4 separate regions of the Homo sapiens genome follow, and regions 2, 3 and 4 are each reported to be linked to region 1. The links are microRNA targets in miRTarBase. Many come from high-throughput screens and were not tested one by one. Region 1 holds a microRNA gene; each other region holds the end of a gene's coding sequence.

Region 1 (3,000 bases):
GACCTCATGTTTGGGGCAGGAATCAGCAAAGTGGCCCCGCAGCGGGGAGAGGATTTGAGGCTCCAGGGCAGAGGGTGCTCCACGCACACCTGAGCGTCCTCCAGGGCTGAGTTTCAGGAACATCCTGGGGATGCCCCTGAGGGTCTCAGCCCTTCCTCTCGGCTCACCTCTCACCCCCTGGGGCAGGTGACCCCATTTCTCCTGCCTCTGCCCGGAGGGCTGCTCCCGGCCAGCTCCCCGTGCTCGGATTCAGGGGCACGCTCCCTCCGGTCTCCACTCCTGCTCCCTCGGAGGTGGCAGAGCCCCCATTCCAACCCAGTGCTCCTGCCTGCTGGGCCACACTCTCCACTCCAGCACGCAGCTCGCCCCAAGGTCTTCGGAGATGGTTTCCACCACCTCCCCTCCCACAAGCCCTCACCCAGGGCCCTTTAATCCACAGTAAGGGGCCTGTGGTGGCCCTGCCCAAGGCAGGTGGGACTTAGAACTGGCCACTGGGGGTCTCAGTGGAGGGGGGAGCAGAGGTCCCAAGCAGCCTTCAGTGGACGCCACTCAGGACGTGATCCAGGGGCTCACTGGACGACGGGAATCTGAAGACCACATTTGCCAGGGCCCCAAGAGCTCCCAGGCCTCCGCCTCCTTCCTGAAAGCCGCTTCCCTCAGGAGCCCACTCGGTCACTCCCACCGCCCAGGAGCTGACCCCCCGAGGAGCCCTGCCTCCAGGCACAGCCCTGCCCTCGGGGGCCGCCCCATCCTGCCTCTCACGGCTGGCGCTCTTCTACCCTCCACCCTCTGAGCCCCGGCATCCCAGAATGCGGGAGGGTTTCCCTCAGAGGGGGTTGCAGAGGTTCATAAAAAAAAGTGCTTCTTCAGCCAGGTGCGGTGGCTCACGCCTGTCATCCCAGCACTTTGGGAGGCCGAGGCGGGCGGATCACAAGGTCAGGAGATCGAGACCAACCTGACCAACGTGGCGAAACCCCGTCTCTACTAAAAATACAAAAATTAGCCAGGCGTGGTGGCGGGTGCCTGTAATCCCAGCTACTGGGGAGGCTGAGGCAGGAGAATCGCTTGAACCCGGGAGGCGGAGGTTGCAGTGAGCCGGAGTTGAGATTGTGCCACTGCACTCCAGCCTGGCGGCAGAAAAAAAAAAAAAATGCTTCTTCACAACAAAGGTGGTAAATCTGTTCCTGAGAGGTGGGACAGGAACGCTAGAAAATGACTCCCAGCCGGGCGCGGTGGCTCATGCCTGTAATCCCAGCACTCTGGGAGGCAGAGGCGGGCGGATCACTCGAGCTCAGGAGTTCGAGACCAGCCTGGCCAACCTGACGAAACCCCATCTCTACTAAAAATACAAAATTAGCCGGAAATCACTTGAACCCGGGAGGCAGGGGTTGCAGTGAGCCAAGATAGCACCACTGCACTCCAGCCTGGGCAACAGAGCAAGACTCTGTCTCAAAAAAAAAAAAAAAAAAACAGAAAATGACTCCAGAAGGACCTCAGTGCAAGTGGCCCCCGGACAGGGAACCACGTGGAAGGTGGAGCTGTGTGGGCACATTTCACGCCTGCCCTGGAGGGGCCGCGGAGCCCAGGCCCTGAGCCAGGCATCGGGTCTGAGGGTGGGCACGTTTCCTGGGGCTCCCAGGCCAGCGGCCACGGTGGCAGCCCGGGCTGGCTTTCCCCTGCCCTCCCCCAAGGGCAGCCCCACGCTCAGGGCTGGGTCCCCTTGGGACACCGAAGCCGGCCTGTCATTGGGGCAGACCACAGGCGTGAGAGGCACGGCGGGGCTGGCAAGCTGGCAACGGGGGAGACGGGAGTTGCCAAGACCCTGCCTCTCCTCCCTCGAGGAGGCGCCGGAGGATTCCGTCAACGTGACTGCTCCGAGCGACTCCGAGAGAGGCAGGGCAGAGAGGGAGGGGCTGCCAGGACCTACCCCTGGCTTCCAGCTCAGCAGCTGGGTTGGGGACACCGGGCCAGGCTCCATAAACTCTCCACACATCTTCCCATGGCTTGGCATCCACACTGCTAGGCCAGGCAGGCTCCGCCTCTCCAGCCCTCACCCTGCAGGGTCAGCCAGGCTCCCTTGTAGCCAAGGTGTCCTGCAGCCAAGGTGTGCCCACCTGCCATACCCAGGCCAGCCACAGATAGGCTCGGGCTGATGCCGTGTCCCAGGGCCTCGGCTGGCTTCCCCTCCAACACCAGAGAACTTCGAAGTTCCCCAAGCCTCATGGGAGGAAGGGGATTAGCAGCTCTGAACGACGCTTTTGTCCAAGGCAGGCTAGCCTCTTAGCACCCGCAGCAACCTGCCTTCCCCAGCGTCCATTCTAGCACCTCTGCCTGCCCCACGTCCGCTCCAGAGCCTCTGCCGGCCCCACGTCCACTGCAGAGCCTCTGCCTGCCCCACGTCCGCTCCAGCGCCTCTGCCGGCCCCACGTCCACTGCAGAGCCTCTGCCGGCCCCACGTCCACTACAGCGCCTCTGCCGGCCCCACGTCCACTCCAGCGCCTCTGCCGGCCCCACGTCCACTCCAGCGCCTCTGCCGGCCCCACGTCCACTCCAGAGCCTCTGCCTGCCCTGGCACCCACTTTGCTTTTAGCCCCCGGGCTGGGCATGGCTGACCTTGAGGAGAAGCAGACAAAATCCAAACCTGGGCTGCTCTTGGAGGCCCCACAGCCAGGCACATCTCCCCCAGCGGCCTAGGGCTCCGTCTTCCTCAGGGCCAGCCCACCCCACCACTGCCTCCCTGTGCAGGCAGCCTGGAGGCTTCAGCTTCAGCTCAGAACTGGGCTACAAATACCAGCCAGGAAGCCGGCCCTGCCCCAGCCCAGGGCAGGTCGAGGATGCCAGAGTGGCAAGGGCAGGGGCAGTGGGGCCCTCTTGAGAAAAGGAACAGGCCAGGGCCAAAGCAACACGGAGGCCCTGTCCTGAAAGGAAAGGGGCGCCCTCAGAGGTCAAAGTCCAAGATGAGAGGCCTTCTGTGGTCCTGACCAGGAAGCTTCACGCTGG
Region 2 (3,093 bases), not on the chromosome of region 1:
GGTGATGACCTACCAGAACGCCCGCATGTGGTGGTACTTTGGCTGCTACTTCTGCCTGCCCATCCTCTTCACAGTCACCTGCCAGCTGGTGACATGGCGGGTGCGAGGCCCTCCAGGGAGGAAGTCAGAGTGCAGGGCCAGCAAGCACGAGCAGTGTGAGAGCCAGCTCAACAGCACCGTGGTGGGCCTGACCGTGGTCTACGCCTTCTGCACCCTCCCAGAGAACGTCTGCAACATCGTGGTGGCCTACCTCTCCACCGAGCTGACCCGCCAGACCCTGGACCTCCTGGGCCTCATCAACCAGTTCTCCACCTTCTTCAAGGGCGCCATCACCCCAGTGCTGCTCCTTTGCATCTGCAGGCCGCTGGGCCAGGCCTTCCTGGACTGCTGCTGCTGCTGCTGCTGTGAGGAGTGCGGCGGGGCTTCGGAGGCCTCTGCTGCCAATGGGTCGGACAACAAGCTCAAGACCGAGGTGTCCTCTTCCATCTACTTCCACAAGCCCAGGGAGTCACCCCCACTCCTGCCCCTGGGCACACCTTGCTGAGGCCCCAGTAGGGGTGGGGAGGGAGGGAGAGGCCGCCACCCCCGCCGGTGTCTGCTGTTCTTTCCCCATAGGTCTTGCTTTGTTGCCTGTCTTGCTGTCTAGGGATGGACTTGGTTCCTCTTGTCAAGGTTTGGGAATGTCAAAGCCCCCTCCCCACACAGGGCCTTTCCTGTCCCTTGTGGGGCCTTCCAACCCTGTCCTTTCCACTGGTGGGCGGTGATGCTTCTAGGTCCTTAGAACTGCCCAGAAACTCTGAGTCCCAGCAGCTGGGAGCCAGAACTTTGCCTGCCCTCCCTTGGTTCCAGTCTCTCTTCTCTCTCTCTGCCTTGGAACCTGACCATACTTTAGTTGTGCCCTTCCCAGGCATCATCCTCCTACCACCAACCTGGGGCCCCATCTTGGAATGGGGGCTCCTTGGGGCCAGCCCAGTGTGGCTCACCACACTCTTCTTTTTTTTTTTTTTTTTTTTTGAGATGGAGTCTTGCTCTGTTGCCCAGGCTGGAGTACATTTGCCTGATGTCAGCTCCCTGCAACCTCCGCCTCCTGGGTTCAAGCGATTCTCCTGCCTCAGCCTCCTGAGTAGCTGGGATTACAGGTGTGCACCAACACACCCGGCTAATTTTTGTATTTGTAGAAGAGGCGGGGTTTCACCATGTTGGCCAGGCTGGTGTTGAACTCCTGACCTCAAGTGATCTGCCTGCCTTGGCCTCCCAAAGTGCTGGGATTACAGGTGTGAGCTGCCACGCCCAGCCCCAGTACACTCTTCTCTGGACCAGATCTGTCCCAGTCCTGGATGCCTCCTCCTACTGGTGCCTTCTTTTCTTCCAGAGGATTTCTCTCTCCTTCCTCCTCCTTTCTTTGGGATCCCTGGGTTGCCCTGTCCCAACCTCCTTGTTAGGTGCTTTCCCATAGGAGGCCCTTCTTGAGAAACAATAAACTAGGTAGAACTACCCCTATGCCCATCCACTTTCTTGTGCCACATTCTGGCAGGGCCCAGATGCAGCTGGGCCTTCCTGGCCTGGCAGTGCCTAGGAGAATTTCTCCTGACCTGGCCTGGCCTGTGGCTGATGTTCAGAACAGCCTTGTGGCCGATGTTCAGAACAGCCTTGTGGCCCTGGCGACTCCAAGGGTTTTATGGCTTTTGAGGGACAGAGAGGATGGAGGGCTTGGGGAGCCGGAGGACCTAAGTCCTCATCCTGGCCTAAACCCCATGCTCCTTGGGAAGTCAAAAGCCTGGAAAATATCTCCTCTGGAGCCTTCATCTCTGCTATGCCCTCTCTCCACAAAGCCCCCCTTGGAGGGAGTCCAGTGGTCTTTCCTCTGTGAGCCCCAGGGCTTCCCAGCCTTTGTCACTCTGAGAGCTGCTCTTGTTCAGTTTCTTAGAATGGACTGTTTTGCCTGTAGACGGCCCAGCTGCCTGCCCTGGCCTGCCCCCACCCAGCCCCCACTGCACCACCCTTCCCGCCAGAGCTCCCACTGCCCCCGGCAGACCCTTCATGCAGCTTCTCCTGTGGGGTCTTGCCCTTGAAGTGCCACTTCCCCCAGCCCCACCTCTGGTCCCTTCCAGAGGGCACCCTTAGCCTTGTAGGTCCCTGGGAAGCTGGCACAGCATCAACCAGAAGTGATGCCTCAGCCAGGCCACCAGTCGCTCCCCGCCTGGGAGCTCAGCTTTCCTCAGAACCACCCCCCCTGTCTGAAGCTCTGTCCTGGGTCCCACCAGACTTCTGCCCACCAGGCCTACCTACAGCATCCACATGGGGCCTCAGGAAGGGCCCCGGGGGCCCAGGGATGGGCAGGGGCAGGGTTTCCAAGCGCCTGGGGCTCCATTCTCCTCTGTCCACCCACCCACACCCCTTGGCCTCAGCCTGCCCTGTACCCAAGCTTCCCTCCCCCTCTCCTGGGGATCTTAACGGCCTTGTTCTCTCTCCCTGGCACCCACCCCCAGGGCGGGTGATGCCGCCAAGAGAGAGGGAGGCCGTTGCTAGGTGATGGCGCCGCCATGCACACACCCTTTGTGCTGGGGAGTGACACCCACCCGTTTCTCAGCAGACCTGTTGCCACGGTGACTGAAGCCCCCAGCTCTGTCTGTAGAAACTTCAGATGGGTGGGGGAGCAGGTTGGAGAGGGGACCAAAGGCAGGCCTGTCGTGCTGAAGCTCTTGGGGACCGTTTCCTCGGCATTTCCCCAACTCCTTCTCCACCCCCCTGCCAGGCCCGGAAGTACCACCAGCTTCCTAAGGGATGCAGGAAGGGGCCGGGTGAACTGAGGTGAAGTCCAGGGCAGGGGAGTCAGACCCCTCAACATCCTGTTTAGGGGTCCTCCTCCACAAAGGGTGCCCTCCACCTCTCCCTCCTGCTGGTTGGCCGGCTCAGAGATGAAGGGGGAGAGATGGTGGCTCCAAGGCTCTGCCACCGCCACCTCCCAAGCCTGCCAACGTGAATGGCTTGCAGAATCAGTCAGCAGGCCAGCGGCCTTGGGAAAGAGCCACTGTCCTCGCAGCCTGGGCCAGCTGGGGGAACAATGTAGGGTTTGTTGCTTAGGGGTCCCAG
Region 3 (3,093 bases), not on the chromosome of region 1:
TCCAGGAATTTTGTAAGCTGATTAGGGTCACTTTGGTAGTTTGAAAATGGAGAGAGAATATTTGGACCATGGAAATTGGCAAATGATACAAATCAGAGACTGTTTTTTTTTTCCCTCCTGGACAGTGTGTTGTTAAATAATTTACCAATATACCATTGTAGTTTGGTCAGAAAAGAGAGTGCATACATGGTTCAGTTTACAATGGGAGCAATAATCAATTATTTAGAATACCAAAGTTAGAGAAAAAGAAACTTTTTGGCAATTTGGCCAATAAGTTTATAAATAGTCTTAAATATCACCTGTTTTTCTAATTAAATGTTTTAAAAGTAAATGATAGAGTCTAGTACATTTCTTAATCATTAAATATGTTTTATAACATTTGTACAAAGCTGTTTTGAAACATTTGTTGACTTTTTTTAATCAAACGCTCTGTACTTGTTTTTTAAATAATTGCAGAACTATAAGTTAAACCTAAATATTAATAAAAATGAAACTATATGAAACTATATGAAACTAGATGAATCAAACTTGTCTTGCAGATATAGCTTTTGTGTTTATTTTCTGTAAACTCTGTTTTTTGGTGTTATAGAGCTATTTTTGTATTCAATTTATATGTGTACATGTGTCTGCACATGCACACACACACACACACAAACCTCAACAAATTATAATATTAGAGAAACAGGACTTCTGGTTCATGAAATATTTTACTTAATAGCCAGGAATGACTTATGTTAAAAATTGTGCCGGGCTTATAAGTATCTCTTTGATCTGGCCAACAGCTCTTCCTCTCTTTTCTAAAAACTTCAAAATGCCCTCATTTCTATTTTTTCCCTTTCAGTTAACAATTTAGTTTAAAAGTGCACACTTATGGTTCAGTAAATGGGCTTTGTCTAGTAGTCACAGATGCTGAGTATGAATTTCAATGGATCCGTTAGCTTTACTACTAAGATCTTGCTGAGATCAGAGAAGGGCTTCTGGGCAGGCTGAGCACTGGGGGTGTGCAACATGGTAACTCTGAATAAGAGAAACCCTGAGTTTTACTGGGCAAAGAAAGAACAAGTGGTAGGTATGATTTCTGAACCTGGAAATAGCGAAAATGAAGGAAATTCCAAAAGCGCGTATTTCCAAATAATGACAGGCCAGCAAGAGGACACCAAACCTCTAGAAAGAGGTATTCTTTCTTCCAGCTACTGATGGCTTTGGCATCCCACAGGCGCATTCCTTTGGCCTTCAGGATCTTAGATGCGGATGTGGAGAGTCAAGAGGTAGGCTGACTCTGAGTCTTCAGCTAAATTCTTTGGAAATTAGTTTAAAAAAATAAATTTATAACATTTAATTTCTATGTGGATTTGCTCCTCTTTGAACAAAGCAGAGCCCAGGAGTTTCTGGATGAATACATGTTCTGGTCTTGTTACAGGTTCTGGTAAATCAGATGGAGAAATGTTGTTGCAGAAATGTCAGCAAACTTTACAGCAGTAGTTCACACATGCAGCTACTATACATTCATTCATTGCTATTTTCCTAAGAAATGGAGCAACCTAGGAGCTTATGCTACAGTAGATTCCAATGAACCATAATGACTACTTCAAGAACAAAGAAGCACATACAAAGGTGTGATATCTTCCTGTTGGTTTGAGTTTTCAAACCTGAAATTCTTTAAAATACATTTCTGGGATTTTATTTAAATATTGATGCAACACACCTAAAAAGCAGTGACTTCTTGGTAAAATGTAATACTGAAATGGAAAATTGTCTTTTCAAAAAAATAAGAAGTGTGGTTGGAAATTAAATACCTTTTAAAAAATTAAAAATAAACACACTCTCACAGCTTGGGGGTTTGAATGAACCCTGTACCAAGGAGTTGAGACAACTCTTTCTTTGGGTCACATACTGGAACCCTTAGCATTCAAAAGCTGCTCAGCAAAGATAATTTCAGCATTTCAGTGGCATCTTTCTCTGCTGTCGTATTTCATTCAGAAGCCATTTTAGCATGTCCCCCATATATGGCTTTTCATGACAAATCACTGTGATGCCACACAAAACTACTTTAAGTGTTTTTTCAGTATAAAAGAGTTTTGCATTTAGAGCTCAATATCAAAATTAAGCATGTTCTGTAAAAGCTTAATTTAACCCATTTAATATACTTGTTTTTAAACGAGTCTATCCTGATTTTCCATCCTAGATAAAATTTTAGCTCAATTGCAGTACTTTCCAATCACCTTGGGCAGGGAGGGAAAATTTTTAGGTATAGAACCCAACACAAAGATGCTAAATGTATTCTTGGTGACTTAATTTTCAATCCATATTGTATATGGATTCTACCAAGGGAAAATATTCTCATTTGAATAGGGAGAAATGATCTTTTTCAGGTAATTCTTTTCTTGGCATTTACGAGTGCTGACTGTCATGCTGAACATGGATATCCAACAGGAATCAAGGGGAAAAGCTTAATTTATATTGTTTTGAAAATAGATGTTTCTATGATCATAAAAATCTTTTTATATATTCCTTAAATATTTTGGATGGTGATTTAATACATAAACATATTTGTACAGGTTTTTTTAAAAACACTTTGTAATTTTGCTTACTCAACAAAAATGAGTAATTATGTAAAATATTTTTTGTCATTTTATAAAATATGTCTTTTTGGTATTGTTTTTGGATAATGCATGACCTGTCATTTTCCAAGTAATGAATCCCTGATGGATTACATAGTTACATGACTATGTCATGAATTATACATTTCTTGTCACATATTTGAGGCAAACCTGAGGATAGATTATTGAATAATTGTTATTATTTTCTTTCATAAAATATTTCATTTCTCCATTTTCTTTTTCAGTGGTCTTTTGAAGAATCCAATCTGTTGAGAAAACACAAAACATAACACAATTAACTATTTTAATTTAGGTAGCAAATATTAATCCTTTGGATAGAATTAAATTTAATAGTATATTGGCAATGCTGGGCACACAACTAATATAATTAAGAAATATTTTCTCATTGACCTATTAATATTCAATGTCAAAAAATGACATTTATTAAATTGCTGTTTCTTTTTTTTTCTTTTCTTTTTTTTTTTTGAGACAG
Region 4 (3,093 bases), not on the chromosome of region 1:
ATTAACGTGTTAAACTTGCTGGTAGGTCCAGCCTGCATACTTCAACATTAACATTCTCAAAAACTTCTTAGAGGGAAAAGCAGAAAAATGTCATATTCAACCATGAGCTTTGCCAGTGGCTCTAATAACTTCTGACATTGAAAAATAATTGGTAGTTTTGGCAGATATAATAGTAGGTAGAGATTGCTTGAAGTCTGCCTGGTGGACACACAGGGATTTCAGAATGAGTACCAAGCATAACAAGCTATCAATTTCTTACCTAGAATAATAAGAACAAATTAACCCCAGGCAGAGAAAATGTGATACCTATGTGGGTATCAGACTCCCCAAATGCAACCACGTTGTAGCTTAAAGGGTCTAATTGTATCGAATCTTTGCTCCTGTGCTTTACATGCAGCGCGGCAATAGCACTTCCACTATTTCTCCAGTTCCTGAAACAGTTATTACGGTCACAGCTGAAAGCAACTTGAAATCTACCAAATAAGATCAGGCAAATTTTAGGACGGTATAGAGGATGTAAGTTTGAATTGCAAGAGGCACCTGAAAAACGTCTGGTGCCATTCCCACTTTTCCAAGGTTGCACTGAGCAACACACTCCCATGAGGTATGCTGACCCTCAGAGAAATTCAGAAGCACTATTTGTGAGGCTGCCATTAACTCAAAATCTCCTGTTTCCCCAGCTCTGTAGCTTAACCTCCATGGGTGTGAGACAGGGACAAGGGCAGGGAAAGGCCTTCCAACTGGGTGTGTGGAAACCTGGGGGAGGCAGGTGGTGGCTAGATTTTAGGGTCTTAACAATGCCATTGGGTCCAGTCCCTGCAGTGAGTCCACGTTCTAGAAAAACTGTTGCCATGTTTACTCCTAGAGAGACATACAAAAAAATTTGGGAGATCCTCTCTAGTTACTCCCAATACATTTTCTCAAAAATGCACAACTGCTTTAAATAAAAACCTAAGTTTTAAATGGCAGCAGTCCAAAATTCCCTAGTAAGAACAAATCTCCACTGATTCTAATGGGGGGAGGGGAAGTGAAACTATGCCATAATGATTAAAACTGCAATAATTTTTTGACATGATCTCAATTTTTACTCTTATTTATTGTAAAGTGAAAAAACAGCTGCAGACACAAATGACTTCCACCATACAATGTTCTGAATTCTGTTACTCATGATTTCAATGCTGCTTGGTTTCTTTCTTGAAAATCAATAGTGGATAAACGCTCTTCTTGAAATTACCACCAAATGAGAAAAATAAGCAGAATAGCAAATACATGATTAAACATAGGAGACAAAACAGCAATTTGAATAGGAAACAGAAAACATTTCTGAGCAGACTGTTTAGAAGTGCCTCCAAGGGCTGGTCTGCACTACCTATCAATGCGGGGTGGGGGTGGGGAGGTTGCCGTCATGGTATCATCTAAGTACCAACATTTTTTTTCTTTTTTTTTTGAGGCAGTCTCCAGTCTTGCCCAGGCTGAAGTGCAGTGGTGCCACCTCGGCTGACTGCAGCTTCTGCCTCCTGGGTTGAAGTGATGCTCCTGCCTCAGCCTCCTGAGTAACTGAGATTACAGGCATGCGCCACCATGCCAGGCTAACTTTTGTATTTGTAGTAGAGACGGAGTCTCGCCATATTGCCCAGGCTGGTCTCGAACTCCTGGCCTCAAGTGACCCGTCTGCCTCGGCCTCCCAAAGTGCTGGGATTACAGGTGTGCACCACCACGCCTGGCTAATTTTTGTATTTTTAGTAGAGACACGGTTTCACCATGTTGGTTAGGCTGAACTCCTGACCTTGTGATCTGCCTGCCTTTGCTTCCCAAAGTGTTGAGAGTACAGGCATGAGCCACCAAGCCCAGCCCCATCTGAGACATCTTAACAGACCACTGGGTGGGTAGGGGTTGGGGGCAGAACCTGGATTCCAAATATCAAGGGACTGTGCAGAGGAAAGAAATTCCCAGGCTCTGTTCAACTTAATTGCACAAGCTTACAGCACCAGAGCTCAAGGGTCTCACTTCTGAGCTGTCCCTCTCTAGAAGTCTCCAGACAGACCCCTGGATACTAAATGAAACATCTGGAAATGTCAACATTAAAAATACTGAAAGTCTTATTACTAAAAGAGGAAAATATCTTTTTTTCCTCTGTGTACAAATAGCTCATCTAGGCTACCACAGTTAAGTCTGAAGCAGGGCTGTGGCGTGGGTGAACTACAGTATTTGACATCTTTATACGGATTAAGGAGTTGGGTCAGGAAACCTGATGACCCAGGAGAGAATGAAAAATAAGTCACAATTATTCATTATAATAGTCACCAGATCATTTGACACATTAAATTTTAGTCTTGGCTTCAACTTAAGAATATAGAGTTTTAGGAAAATGTTTTCCATATGCATAAAAAACAAGAATGGAGGGATGCAGACCAGCAGCTATTTTCTGAGAACAAAACATCAGCCCATGTGTTGCTTTACACTTTTAATCTCTGTTGGTACATCAGATGCCACGGACCAAGCAATTTAAGTTCTGGAGCCCGAAGGCAGTTCCAAACCAAAGCAAGGATTAAAACCTAACTCAACCCAGCAAGGTCCTTATCCAAGCTCTCTAGAAGAGACCATTCTGTTTCTAGAAATGACGGGACACTGTGTTCAAATTGCTTCTGTCAAGATACTTAAAAATAAGTAAGTGTTCCTCATTGGTTACAAAGCTGGGGCTAATGCTCATCTCAAAACGACTCCAACTCTCTGAGTCCAGCCATTTCAAAGGACATCCTTTAGTCTCTGGAAATGGAGAGTGCGATTCAGAAATGAGCTCCAGGGGCCCTCTTTACAATCACCAAGGACTTCTCTCCACTCGTGAGGGTCCGGCTTCCTCCAGTGCATCCTTCTCTTCAGGCTGGAGGAAGTTTTCTATGGCAGAGTTCATCATGCCCTTCCATCTTCCCGTCACTGATTATTTAGAAGACAGGAGAATCACAGAAAGGGCAGGGGCTTTGCAGTAACCTCTTAATCCAGTCGGGATCTGCAAAAGGAGGACAAGTGGTATCAACTGTTAGCTTCGGAAAAGACAGTCAAAAGGGATGAATACCGGACTGTAGCGTTGAGAGA

Evidence for each region. Region 1 holds the annotated microRNA hsa-miR-3183 (GCCUCUCUCGGAGUCGCUCGGA, at 1,874-1,895, opposite strand). A microRNA usually pairs through its seed, bases 2 to 8, with sites in the 3' UTR of a target mRNA and lowers its output. Matches are read on the target gene's strand: a 7mer-m8 pairs with bases 2 to 8, a 7mer-A1 pairs with bases 2 to 7 and ends in A, and an 8mer does both.
Region 2: miRTarBase lists GPR37L1 as a target of hsa-miR-3183. Seed matches in the 3' UTR shown: 8mer at 1,695-1,702 and 7mer-m8 at 2,509-2,515.
Region 3: miRTarBase lists ITGA1 as a target of hsa-miR-3183. Seed matches in the 3' UTR shown: 8mer at 787-794.
Region 4: the mRNA of GTF3C4 is a reported target of hsa-miR-3183. Seed matches in the 3' UTR shown: 7mer-m8 at 2,020-2,026 and 8mer at 892-899.

Annotation. Positions count from the first base shown.
Region 1 is chr17:1,020,656-1,023,655 of GRCh38, forward strand. MIR3183 (microRNA 3183) reads right to left here and starts at 1,904; the gene lies at 1,821-1,904. All of the region lies in intron 16 of ABR (ABR activator of RhoGEF and GTPase), which reads right to left.
Region 2 is chr1:202,128,013-202,131,105 of GRCh38, forward strand. It overlaps GPR37L1 (G protein-coupled receptor 37 like 1), which reads left to right. Exons shown (of 2, transcript NM_004767.5): 2 at 1-3,093. The coding sequence ends at 544. Among named protein-coding and RNA genes, the nearest start is that of GPR37L1, 6.6 kb to the left of the region's middle. RefSeq lists enhancers at 1,871-2,654, 2,655-3,093.
Region 3 is chr5:52,952,180-52,955,272 of GRCh38, reverse strand. It overlaps ITGA1 (integrin subunit alpha 1), which reads right to left. Exons shown (of 29, transcript NM_181501.2): 29 at 1-2,866. The coding sequence ends at 2,822. All of the region lies in intron 2 of ITGA2-AS1 (ITGA2 antisense RNA 1), which reads left to right. Among named protein-coding and RNA genes, the nearest start is that of ITGA2, 36 kb to the left of the region's middle.
Region 4 is chr9:132,688,795-132,691,887 of GRCh38, reverse strand. It overlaps GTF3C4 (general transcription factor IIIC subunit 4), which reads right to left. Exons shown (of 5, transcript NM_012204.4): 5 at 1-3,007. The coding sequence ends at 2,943. Among named protein-coding and RNA genes, the nearest start is that of GTF3C4, 20 kb to the right of the region's middle.